Linked DNA regions of Homo sapiens: all the other regions are reported to be linked to region 1. Evidence: microRNA targets listed by miRTarBase, many of them from high-throughput screens and not tested one by one. Region 1 holds a microRNA gene; each other region holds the end of a gene's coding sequence.

The links. Region 1 holds the annotated microRNA hsa-miR-146a-5p (UGAGAACUGAAUUCCAUGGGUU, at 1,177-1,198, opposite strand). A microRNA usually pairs through its seed, bases 2 to 8, with sites in the 3' UTR of a target mRNA and lowers its output. Matches are read on the target gene's strand: a 7mer-m8 pairs with bases 2 to 8, a 7mer-A1 pairs with bases 2 to 7 and ends in A, and an 8mer does both.
Region 2: miRTarBase lists ENTPD5 as a target of hsa-miR-146a-5p. Seed matches in the 3' UTR shown: 7mer-A1 at 1,420-1,426.
Region 3: miRTarBase lists IL1RL2 as a target of hsa-miR-146a-5p. The part of its 3' UTR that is shown has no 7-base or 8-base seed match.
Region 4: the mRNA of WSB2 is a reported target of hsa-miR-146a-5p. Seed matches in the 3' UTR shown: 7mer-m8 at 2,280-2,286.

Annotation. Positions count from the first base shown.
Region 1 is chr5:160,483,397-160,486,569 of GRCh38, reverse strand. It overlaps MIR146A (microRNA 146a), which reads right to left and starts at 1,218; the gene lies at 1,120-1,218. It overlaps MIR3142HG (MIR3142 host gene), which reads right to left. Exons shown (of 2, transcript NR_132748.1): 2 at 1-1,271.
Region 2 is chr14:73,964,204-73,967,376 of GRCh38, forward strand. ENTPD5 (ectonucleoside triphosphate diphosphohydrolase 5 (inactive)) reads right to left here. Exons shown (of 16, transcript NM_001249.5): 16 at 1-2,811. The coding sequence ends at 2,725. Among named protein-coding and RNA genes, the nearest start is that of COQ6, 15 kb to the left of the region's middle.
Region 3 is chr2:102,238,828-102,241,827 of GRCh38, reverse strand. It overlaps IL1RL2 (interleukin 1 receptor like 2), which reads right to left. Exons shown (of 12, transcript NM_003854.4): 12 at 1,826-2,636. The coding sequence ends at 2,587. Among named protein-coding and RNA genes, the nearest start is that of IL1RL2, 53 kb to the right of the region's middle. RefSeq lists a silencer at 766-825 and enhancers at 765-1,059, 2,914-3,000.
Region 4 is chr12:118,031,462-118,034,634 of GRCh38, forward strand. It overlaps WSB2 (WD repeat and SOCS box containing 2), which reads right to left. Exons shown (of 9, transcript NM_018639.5): 9 at 1,226-2,897. The coding sequence ends at 2,735. It overlaps RFC5 (replication factor C subunit 5), which reads left to right. Exons shown (of 11, transcript NM_007370.7): 11 at 1-773. Among named protein-coding and RNA genes, the nearest start is that of RFC5, 16 kb to the left of the region's middle.

The sequences.
Region 1 (3,173 bases):
CCGTTTTCCAGATGAGGCTTGGTGAGATTCACTGAGATCATGCATACAAAGAAAGCCCTGAGCACAGTGCTTGGCACATAGTGGGCACTCAGTAAACCTCGGTGTCACTGAGAAGACAGAATGAGAATGAGCATGCTGTGGAGTCTTTCACCTGCCTCTCCTCTGGGACAGGTTACTCTTTCATTCTGTAGACTGTAATGACATGGAAATTCCAAGATACCAAGAGACAATGATGAATCAAAGATGAGTTCCCAAAAGACAAATCACATCCCTTATTCCCCATCAAATCTAAAGCCTAATAAAGTCCATATAGCACTCATGAGGCCTCTAACCTTCTGCCTAAAAGTGATCATCATCACAGCAAACCTGAGCCTCAGAAAGGACCTAGCTTACTTGGTGACAGAGGAGGGCAACAGAAGGACTTGGCCCATGGCACCCAGCTGACCATGTCAGCAAATAGAGAGGCCTTCAAAGCCTTTGCATTCCTGTTCCCTGGAGAAACTGAGGATTGCAGTAAAGTGTAATTACAACCTCTTTTTGCCTTGTTTGAAATACAAAGGGACAATGTAGCCCTAATATATTTATAGAAGGAAGTAGAGATCAAATAAAGGAAGAGGGGGACCAAAAGAAGGGCATATCCATGTTTCTCATCTTCTTTCACTGCAGATCTTAAAAAGGAACCAGAAGCCTCAGCAGTCCCTGCTAAAGAATCATTGTCACATTCTATTAGTTCCCTCTGATCCCGTGAAGAGGGGGGAAAAATCATTGCATGGCAATGCCATGTGTCTCAAGCTTCATTAAAGTGATTTCTCCCAAGAGTCTCGTATAACAGCATGTAAAGCACTTACAACAGTACCTGAATCATCGTAAGTAATCAATAAATGTAAACGAGTAGCAGCAGCAGCAAGAGAGACTTGCTGAGATCATTCATTTAGCTACTTGGAACCCTGCTTAGCATAGAATTCAAGTCTTTTCACAATCAAATGAGTGTTTCTCACAGGAACTCACACTCCTTATACCTTCAGAGCCTGAGACTCTGCCTTCTGTCTCCAGTCTTCCAAGCTCTTCAGCAGACTGAAAAAGTTCTTCAGGATCTACTCTCTCCAGGTCCTCAAGCCCACGATGACAGAGATATCCCAGCTGAAGAACTGAATTTCAGAGGTCTGACACTGACACAACCCATGGAATTCAGTTCTCAAAGCTGAGGATACACATCGGCTTTTCAGAGATGGTGCAAAGACCCCTCCTTGCAGTCCAGGCCTGTCCCAGCCCTGTAAAATACAAGAGTGAAAAGCCTGGTAAATCCAATGCAGCTGCTTCCTAGTACCAGGTCTAGTCCTGGCACTCATGAGTTATAAACATCTGGAGGAGACCAGGCCAGCAGTCTGGAAGGCTGATGTGGGTGGATCTCTTGAGCCCAGGAGTTCAGGACTAGCCTGGGCAACATGGAGAATTTGTCTCTACTAAAAATAAAAAATGAGCCATGCATGATGGCCTGTGGTGGGAGGATCGCTTGAGCCTGGGAATTGGAGGTTGCAGTGAGCTATGATTGCACCACTGCACTCCAGTCTGGGCCACAGAGAGAGACCCTGTCAAAACAAAAACTAATCTGTAGGGGATGTGTATGGTAGACACACACATCATTAAGCATCATTAAACATGGTAGCTGGCCTTTCCTGCCTCATGACCCTTCCATATGCCATCCCTCTGGCCTGGAAAACTCGTTCCTCTCTTTAACATCAACTTATCCTGATGTTCTTGCTTTCAATGTCACTTCCTCAGAGAGGCCATCTATGGCAGAGATTGCTGATTGTTTGCCCAATATATATTCTCTCCTCCTTCTATACTAATAGAACCCTTAAGTGGTATCTGAACACATGGACATCTGACTTTGTTTCCTCACCTGGTGTGACAAAGTGCTGGATATGAGCAGGAGTGGAGAGTTTTTTACTGTTTCCCTCCCTCTTCTCAGGCTTGGACTGTAGACATGGTAGAGAGCCACTGTGGACCATGCAAATGAGTGCAGCCCCCCAGGGAACAGCAGAGCAGCATGCCAGAAGAGCCCCAAAAGTGTGAGGCTTCCTTATACACCCTAGACTGCTTACACCTGCACTGATAGATCAGCAAGAATGGAACATTTACCTTATTTAAGCCACTGTTACTTGGGGATCTCTGTAAGAGCACTTGAATGTTTACCTACCACTCCCTCACCATCAGCCTCCAGCTAGTCTCTTTCATAATATGGGATTCTTTCCTTCACCGTAATTTGTAATTGTTAGATAATTTTGTATAATTATTTGATTAAAATTATCTCTCCAACAAGACTGTTTTCCATAAGCATAGAGACCATGCTAGTGTTTTTTAAATATGTATATAGGCGAGATGTGGTGACTCACACCTGTAATCTCGGAACTTTGGGAGGCTGAGGCAGGCAGATCACCTGAGGTCAGGAGTTCAAGTTTCACTTGGCTAACATGGTGAAACCCCGTCTCTAACAAAAATACAAAAATTCGCCAGGCATGGTGGCGCACACCTGTAGTCCCAGCTACTTGGGAGGCTGAGGCAGAAGAATCACTTGAACCCAGGAGGCAGAGGTTGCAGTGAGCTAAGATTGCACAACTGCACTCCAGGCTGGGTGACAAAGCGAGACTCTGTCTCTAAAAAATAATAATAAAATAAAATAAGTATATAATAGCCTTATTGAGCTATAGCTATATAGCTCACACACCAGAAAATTTACCTATTTAAAGTAAAAAATGCATTGGTTTTTAGTATTTTGCAGAGTTGTACAACCATCATAATCAATTCCAGAACATTTTCATCATCCCCAAAATAGATCCCATAACCATTAACAGTCAATCTCCATTCCCCTCCCTCACCCCTGGGGAATCACTGATCTACGTTCTGTCTATATATATGCTGGACATCTTATATAAATGAAATCATATAATCAGCGGCCTTTTGTGACTGGCTTCTTTCACTTAGCTTTCAGGATATATCCATGTTTTAATGCGTATCAGTACATCCTTCCTATGGATGAATAATATTCCATCGTTAGGATCTACCACATTTCATTTATCCATTCATCAGCTGATGGGCATTTGGGTTGTTGCTACCTTTTGCCTATTTGATGCTTCTATGAATGAATACCCATGTACAAGTTTTGTATGGAC
Region 2 (3,173 bases), not on the chromosome of region 1:
CTTCATATGACAATGATGTTAAACACCATCTGTCACGTACCAGGCCATGTCCTAAGTATTTTAAATATGTTAACACATCTACAAAGAGGAAACTATTAGAATCTGTAGGACCTCTTAAGCCCAAAGGGTCTACTGCAGGCAGGATGGGCGTTACAGAAAAAAATAAAAACTCTCATTCCAAATTGCTCCTAAGATGGACAAATTGGTTACTTCTCCAGAAGGTCTAATCAAGGTTAACAAAATAGGTAAGTTCGTGGAGTTAGAATGCATCTTCCCTGGAGTTCAGAGGTATTTGGGATGACCAAAGGAGTCTGCTGGACAGTATGTGTGTTTTACAAAATGGCCCCCACAGTGATTAAAGACCAGAGACTTATATCTCTGCATTTGTCAAGCTGGAACAGTCTTTAGTGAACACAGCTTACCTCTTTTAAAACTGCTGGTTTCTACTGAAGGAAACATGGATGACATTTAGTGTTCTGTGACTGGTCTGGCACCCTACTTTTGTTGACAAAGATGGGAAGGGGTCTAAAAGTCATGTCACTTATAAAAGAACTTGGGAGGAACTTTTTTCAAAAGATCCAAAGATTTTGGAAGGAGAGATTAGAGCAGAACTAAGACCACTTAGAAGATAGGTAGATTTCAGCTCAATATAAGGAATTTTTTTTAATATCAGTGCAGTTCCAAATGGAATAAGCTGTTTGAACATGGCTTAGCAGAAGCTGAATGACAACCTGTTAGAAATTCTAGGGAATTCTGCACTGAGTACAACATTGGATTATTTCTTTGGGCTGTTTCCAACTCAAGATTCTGTTATTTCATTATAAGCATTTTGAGGAAGGCAGTTGGTATAAAGGTGACCTTAGTAATAAAAGTCAGTGTGAAGTCTAAAGAAATTCCACAATGAATTTAAAGACAAGAATTTTAGGGACAAGGATACAGAAATTTGCCTAGTAACTTGCACACAGCAGATGGTAAATATTTATTGACTCAATGGAGTAATGTTAAAAATAAGGTTTCCCATGGACTGTGTGAGGGCCAGGCATACTTAACATCCTTTGTGAGAGAGAGGATGGAAACGGAGTCTACTGTGAAAGCCACAAGTTTTGGGGAAATACACTCCTGCAAAGAAGCTGGAGGTTAACAACCAAGGCAAAGGGGCCAGACCACAGGGAGATCTTCCAGGTCCAAGAGCACTGCAGGGCAGATGAGAAGCAGGGATGATTATGTTGAAAGTGCAAGATAAGGCCAGGCGCGGTGTCTCATGCCTGTAATCCCAGCACTTTGGGAAGCGGGTGGATCAATTGAGATCAGGAGTTGGAAACCAGCCTGGCCAACATGGTGAAACCCCATCTCTACTACAAATACAAAAATTAGCCAGGAATGGTGGTGGGCACCTGTAATCCCAGCTCTTCAGGAGGCTGAGAACAAGAATCGCTTGAACCTGGGGGCGGAGGTTGCAGTGAGCTGAGATTGCGCCACTCCACTCTAGCCTGAGCAACAGAGCAAGACTCCATCTCAAAAAAAAGTGCAAGATAATGAATTTGGGGTAAATAATTCACAGTCAAGAGCTCTGAGCACTTGGATTCAAAAAGAGAGCATGAGGGACATTAAATATGGTTCTCCCTGGAAATGTTGGTCCACTGTACTGATGTGGGCTGAGAGAGCCAACCAAATCCAAGTGGGGTTTTGTCAGGAACGGTATTGGAAACTCTGAACTAGATAAATAATTCAAAGGATATTAGCTAAAGTGATCAGGGACCAGGACAGGAAGGTACTGTTACAAACGGAGAGAATAAAAGGGCAAACTGAAATAATAGATCCTGGAATAGCACAGACACTGACCTCTGACCACAGACCAAAAGTTAGGGCCTAGTTGTATTTCTTAGAAATACAAAGAAAACAAGTTTAGAATCATAGAAAACACTGTTAACACATTAGCCTGGGAGGTGGTACTGGCACTGAATATACACATACCCATAAAGTCGGATATGTTCATTAATCCCAGAGTTGACTGATAAAATGCTGATTAAAGCAAAGGTAGGCTATATGAGGCAGCCACACCCTCCCAAAACATGTCCCCAGAGACCGGGTGGCCTTCTTTCTTAAGGCTGTAATTTATGCACAGTTAGGAGTTACTCTCTCATCCTATTAATATTTAGGATGGCTCTCAGCTGGCTGATTGGAGCTAACACAGAATAGGATCATACAGATTCTGACATGGTCCCATTTTGCGTTGTTGAATTATACATGGAAAGCAAAACCAGGTTTTTTTTTTTCTCTCTTTTTCAGGGGAGGTGGGTGCAGATAAGGGTGGGCAGGGCACTGTATAGGGAGGAAAAAAATACTGATATTGATGGGTCTTGGGATTGCAATAAGTCAGTTTACCATTTAAGAGGAAAATTTAAATATTCAGTGGAATGAGGCACTCAAAGGGTTGAAATGCGATTTTTCTTTGGTTTCCAGGGACCTGTCCCTGGGCTCTCACTCCAAGGTTAAGTTCCAAAACTATACTTTTTGGCTCACAGGGCTCTCTGTGATGCTCTGGTGCCAGCTGTGTACTCTTGAGTGGTTAGGCAGCAGTTCACATTAGATGTGTAAAATTAATTAAACCTAAATCTCTAGGCTCAAGTCCAGGATGTCCCCAGACTAGTTCAGAAACTAAGTGCTCTCTCCTCCCCTTAAAAAGGTGTTGGCAAATGCAGGTCTCCAAGGAAGTACGTGGCCTCAATGGGAGATGCCCAGAGACTGCAACAGGTGAAAGGTGGCCCCCAAGGCCCAGCCCGTCTCTATGTTGTTCACTTTCTTTGTGAGCTGTTGAGAAGAAAAAAAGTCTTCACCTTTTCATCCAGTTTCCAACTCTAGCAAGCACAGCTCTTGGGCAGAAAATATTGGCAAAGAATATCCACATGGGCAAACCAAGGCAAAACGGACAGAAGCCAGTCTTTGCAGGCTTCCCACTACTCTGTAACAATTTCCTTCCGGCCATGGCCCATTGGCCATTGCCCCTACACCCACCATTCTCATATCTGAACTGAATGCTTCTGGCCCAGGTTGTGGCCCATCAGGCCTTCTAGAGAGATAGTTTAGACAGACAGTATTCTGAACTTTCCCTAACGTTGAAACTACACAAAGTATCCCCTGCTTTATTTTCTGATTCACTAATTTCAGATAAG
Region 3 (3,000 bases), not on the chromosome of region 1:
GCTGTAACATCGTGAAATACCCAGCCGGTGATACACTTCCCTGGGGCCATGTCTAACAACTGTGTTACCCCTGGGTGGGTTATCTAATCTCTTACACACTTACTTTCTTCATTTTAAAATGGAGAGGATATAGGATAATTGACTGTTAATGAGATAATGTACTTAAAGAGCTTAGCTTAGGGTCTGTCTGGCACATGGTAAATGCCCCCCTACCTGGCGGCATCAGATCATTTGTGATGTTACACACATTTTCCGTTCACCGGGCTTTTGTACGAATTAATCCTTACTTTGTAAATGTCCTGTTCATATTCTCTGGCCCTTTTTGTAGTGGGCAATAAGGATACCAACATTGTATTATCCCTTTTTTACAGAGGAAGAAACTGGGGCACAGGGTTTTTGACTTGCAAGAGGGATTTAGCTAGCATACTCCCTCAGCAAGTGGTTGAGTTGTGACTGGAGTCCAGGGGCCCGACGCCAGGGCCACCTCTCTGAAATCCCTATGACCGCAGTCCCCTCTTGCGAGCACATAGTAAACAGGGCCTGCTGATCCCCACTCACCACCCTTGGACAGACTGCGACAGTCTCAGAAGCCCAAGAGTTAGGAACACATTCGAAAATGGCACTATCTCCACCTTCTCAGCAGCCGAAAAAGAAGAAAGATATCCTTGGCCTTAAGTTGGAGAGCCCCGAGAAGGTAATGTGTGCACCCCGGGATGCCCGCCCACCTGTAAGTCTCCATTCTGGCCGCCTAGGTAGGTTGCGGCAGCCTGAACGGGGCTCTGTGAGCTTCGGGCTGGACAGCGGTTCCTCAGCAGCCACTAGAGGGCGCAATGGCGCCGTAGGCAGGCACCGAAGTCCTTGTTTGCCGAGCTCAGGCGTGACCTTGTTTGTCCTGTGTCTCAAGAGAGGAAATGTTCATCTCTTTCTCAAGGTCCTTCACCCAGTGAGCTGCTTTCTTTTCCTCTTGATGTCATCCTTTTACACAGGCAGGAAATTATGTTCACTTCTACTATCCTGTGGTCATTTAAAACCACAAACAAAGCTGATTGACCAGGAAGTCAGATAATTAAAAGAGCCATAAGTTCTTGATAAAGCCTTGTTGATTGAAGAAAGCAAAGTAGCCAAAGTATCGTGATTGACAGGGGGACCAGCAGCCTGAGAGGCTGAGCTCTCCAGATTGCAGTGGAAAGGCATAAGTTGGTTATTAAAACAAGTTGGCGAGCTGTGACCAGCATTTTGAAAAATTGAGCTAGACTTGAACAAAATAGAACAAATAACATAGAACAGAGCTTTTTCCATTCCGTGTGTGCATACTGAGTTGCTTACTAAATTATGTTTCTCACTGTACTTCAAAGTTTTAAAAATATGAAAGCCTTGACCGGGCTCGGTGGCTCATGCTTGTAATCCCAGCCTCGGTGACAAAAGCGAAACTCTGTCTCAAAAAAAAAAAAAAAAAAAAAAAAAAAGGAGGAGAAGAAGAAATTTGGAGAAATGAGGCCATCAGAGAGGATGAGAGGACGAAAATATTCATCAGGACATAAAGCTTTGGTGGCTGTCAGACTGAGAAACAGTCCATCTACTAAGTGTGGGGAAAAAAAGCTATTGTGCATGACCCTCATGTTTCTCTATAGCCTCAATCACAGGTTGGGTTTTGCCCAACTTTTCAGTGGACCACACCACGAAGGTAGTGGATTTAAGGTGAAAAATATTTGAATGTTGACAAGCTAATTGTCAGATGATTTTAGCAGAAATCAGTTTTCATTATTTAAACTGATAAGAAAATGTTTGTGATTTTGACAGGCATGGTAAACAAACAAAATTGTGATTTATGTTGCTCAAATGAGAATAAAATTTATTTCACAAATTACTGATATTTTTAACATTTACAGTTTAATTGTTCATTGTGGAAAAACAGAGAAAAGGGCATACGCTGTCCAAGCACAGGCTTCCATGTGGGCTCAGCCCACCATGACATGGGGATGAATCCCAACTCTCACCCACCATGACAGGTGATCCCCCCAGCTCTCACCCACCATGACAGGTGATCCCCCAAGATCTCACCCACCATGACATGGTGATTCCCCCAGCTCTCATCCACCATGACGTGGGGATACCCCCCAGATCTCGCCCACCATGACATGGGGATGCTCCCAGCTCTCACCCACCATGATGTAGGGATACCCCCAGCTCTCACCCACTATGACCATGTGGATGACCACCCGCCCTCACCCACCATGACACAGGGATACCCCCAGATCTCACCCACCATGACATGGGGATGCTCCGAGCTCTCACCCACCATGACTTGGGGATGCCTCCCCCGACCAGCCCTCACCCTCCATGACCATGGGGATAACCCCCAGCTCTCACCCTCCATGACCACGGGGATGGCCCCAGCTCTCACCCACCATGACATGGGGATGGCCCCAGTTCTTATCCCATCCTCCTCTTCTCTACGCCTGAGCTCAACTGGGTGTCTAGAATGCTAACCCTAGCCTCATCCTGCAGCAGAAAATAGGTGTAGGAATGAGGAGACATGGAGCAAAACAAGTCATCTTCCAGCCATAGGTGTCAGTCCAGCAAGTCTTAGCCAGTCGTGAGAGTACACTTCTTTCTTCTTGAGCCTAGTTCTGGGCCTGAAATCAGGAAAGATCTATTTACTCCTTTTCTGATGTGGTGGGAGATGGGGGCTGATAAGGAAACCTGCCATGGGAATGCGAAAACCTCCACCTTGCCGTCAGTTCATCTGGTGGTATATCCCTGAGGCTTCCATTTCTCTTGGGTTATCTTTGCAAGGTGGTTATGCCAGAGGATCACAGGTGAGCAGTGTCAACTCTCACCTTTCCTATAAGAGCCCCAGAGGAAAGGTGAATTTGGATGACAAGAGCCAGGGCTCTGAGGTCCTTCTCAAGTGGAGAGCTCCTCTCCAGGGACAGCCTGGGAGATGAGGGTGGAATTGTATTAGTGAACAGCAGCATTTCTCAGAAGTTCCTGGGTGTA
Region 4 (3,173 bases), not on the chromosome of region 1:
CAGGGATGTACAAAATAATTTTAATGTATTAACTCATACTGCCTGTCTTTTATAGGGGAAAAAAATAACCTTTTTTATTTTAAAGTTATAAGGTTTTTACCTTTTAGTTGCTTGGATGACAGGGAATTAGCCTACCCCATTTTGGTCTGGAACAGAAGACTTTCAAATTTAATATGGTCCAAGTGTCTTCCTACTCAAGGTAAACATTATCTCCAAAATTACATTTATGATTCTAATATTTGGCATTGTGTCTGTATCTAATTTAAACAGATGTTAATGGACGTCTGGCCGAAACTATTATACTTTTATAAGATGAGCTGAATCCTCTTACTTTAAAAACTGGTCTTTTTATTTACCCTCTGTGGTAGAAGAGTCACCAGCAGGTTCCAAATTGATGTGTATGATAGGAAAAAAACCTTAATTTTAAATATAATATAGAGCCTTAAACTATGCCACTGGGTGGCAGAGGCTGTATAAAACGCACTTGTTTTCATGCAGGAGCGGGGCAAGTAAGGTTGAGCCTGACTGTAAACCTAGAACTGCGGAAGGACTGGGACTTTTGTACAAATTTCACATTTATTTTACAGCAATCATGCTGCATTTGTGTTAGTGTTCTTTATAATAAAAAACAAAGCAGCCTCCTGGCTGGCTGTGTTACAAGTGACTCTTCCTTAGACAGCTAGAAAGATGCTGACTTTGTCAAACTTGCATTTATATGAAAACCTTCTGTCTCTAATATCACAGAATAAACTTTCTTTAGATGCTGTTCTTTATAAAATGTCAAATTCTTAAACTGTCAAATGGAAAAAGTCACTATTCCCTTTGTTCATGGAGGACTCACCCCCTTAAGGACAGCGGCAAAGTATGAAGCTAAATATCTGATGGCCAACCAGGCCTCAAACCACCCAGAGGCTCAGCATCTGCTGTACCTGGAACTTCAAGATAACCATGAAATGTAAACGTTGGCCAATCCATTCCCAGCTCTTCTGCTGTACTACTTGTTTTATGTGTTTATTTTTTGAGGCAAGATCATGCTCTGTCAGTCACCCAGGCTGGAATACCGTGACACGATCGTGGCTCGCTACAGCCTCCATGTCCCAGGCTCGAGCAGTTCTCCCACCTCAGCCTCCTGAGTAGCCGGAACCACAGAACCACAGGTAAATGCCACCACATCCTCAGCCCCCTGAGTAGCTGGGGCTACCATGCACACCAGCACCACACTAAGTTTTTTTGGCTATTTATTTATTTATTTTTTAAATAAAGATTGGGTCTTATCTCACTCTGTTGCCCAGGCTGATCTTGAACTCCTGGGCTCAAGCAGTCCTCCCACCTCAGCCTCCCAAAGTGCTGGGATTACAGGCATGTGCCGTCACACCCAGCCCTGCTTGTTTTAAAAGGGGACTTTTTTTTTTCTTAATGGAAAAAAATGAAACAGAGAGCCAAAAGCTTTTAACTGTTGTTTTTTTCTTTTCTTCAATGAAAGCCTCTCATTTTGAAAAGACATGTTTTTCTTCAAGCAACAAAGGTGGTAGAGGAAATTCCTCAACTTTCTCAACGAGTCATGTAACGTTACACTGGCCTCCATAAAGCACCGATTAAGAAAGCTAAAGAATAAGATGTTGTATTTCTTTTAAAATAATTTAAAATATATTAAATTTTCCTAAGGCAGGTTTTGTTTGAATGAGGTGTCTTGATTAGATAACTACATGCCACTGAAGGAGAACAGTACTTTTAAGGAGCTATTTTTGTTTCGCAGTAGAGTTGAAACCAGCTGATTAATCCAATGAAGTTAAACAGCAGAGACAGATCTCGTACATAAGAGTATCAGCTAAAGTCATGACTACACCAATTCTTTACACAATTAAGACATCTTTGCAACTGTTCAATTTAAGTACTATGGTTTTTAGATAATCGAGAAAAACACAGTTGTACCTTAACATCTGTTGAGAAAATACAAATAAATATGATGCTAATAAATGGCCACTGATAACTCAGTAGCCATCTGAATAGTCATGCGGTTTAAGAATACATCCTTGTATAATCTGACATACAAATTTGTCATTTCCTGCACATGCACACCATTGTTAAAAAAAAAAAAAAAAAGCCAGTAATAGTGTCTGGATCGGTCAGGAGCACGGCCTCTGAGTCCCCTGTAATTTAGTTAAGCTAAATTAATACCTCATACCAAATGGCTCCAGGAAAACTGTCCTGCAGGTCAGAAGGGAGCCCAAGAAGAAAAGCACTTGGCCAACATCGAAGCAACTCTGACCACAGCAGGAGAGAACTTGAACCAATGCTACCACTGCATCAGAAACACAAGGATAGGTACTAGGCAGAAGCCATCGTTCCCAGCGGAGGGAGTGTGAGCTGCTCTGCCACTAGAGAGGCTCTGGAGGCCTACTTAGTTGCATAATCAAAACAACATCAGTAACTGCACTTTGAATCAAAACAAGCAGAAAGAGTTCAACACTTGCTGTTCATAACTGGACTGAAAATTTAACGTAAGGCTCTGTTGCCGTGCAAGTGGAATCTCTTCCTCTAAGACTGACTTTCACATGCCAGGGAGAGAAAGATCCATGACTAGTACACTGGAATCTGGTTTTGCTACATTCTATTCACAATCCCAAAGAAATGCTATTTCAATGCAAGACCAGATGTTTGGCCCATTATTCCAGCAACTCCCTTTGACAGGACGATTTACCCTGCTACAAAGAAGCACAAGATGTGGTGTTGCTTAAAAAGTCCTGTATGTGAGGAACTCTTTCATTTTCTTGGGGATTGGCAGTGCTAGGACTTGGTAAGTTGTTAGGAAACTTCGAAGGGCTTTCCGGCATAAGTGCTTCAGTGAGGACAGGACCCTAGGAGCTGTCCAGAACTGGACGTGGCCATCTCTTGTCCTAAAATGAAACAGAAACCGATGCTAAGACAGAGCTTGGATGTTCATGTTTTCATGAGGATGAATACTCATGTTTCTGTTTTGACTGCAAAGAGCAGGAGACTTCGGAGAGTGAAATGTAACCCTGACTGTGGAAATGGATGTAAAATTGTGGTGCTGAATAATTAAAGCTGCTGATAGGATTAGAAAAACTCAAGACACCTGTGATACCAAAGCGCTCTCTCTGTCTCTCTCTCGGCACAGCCCTTTCTAAATCTGACCACAGTTAGTTCAAAAG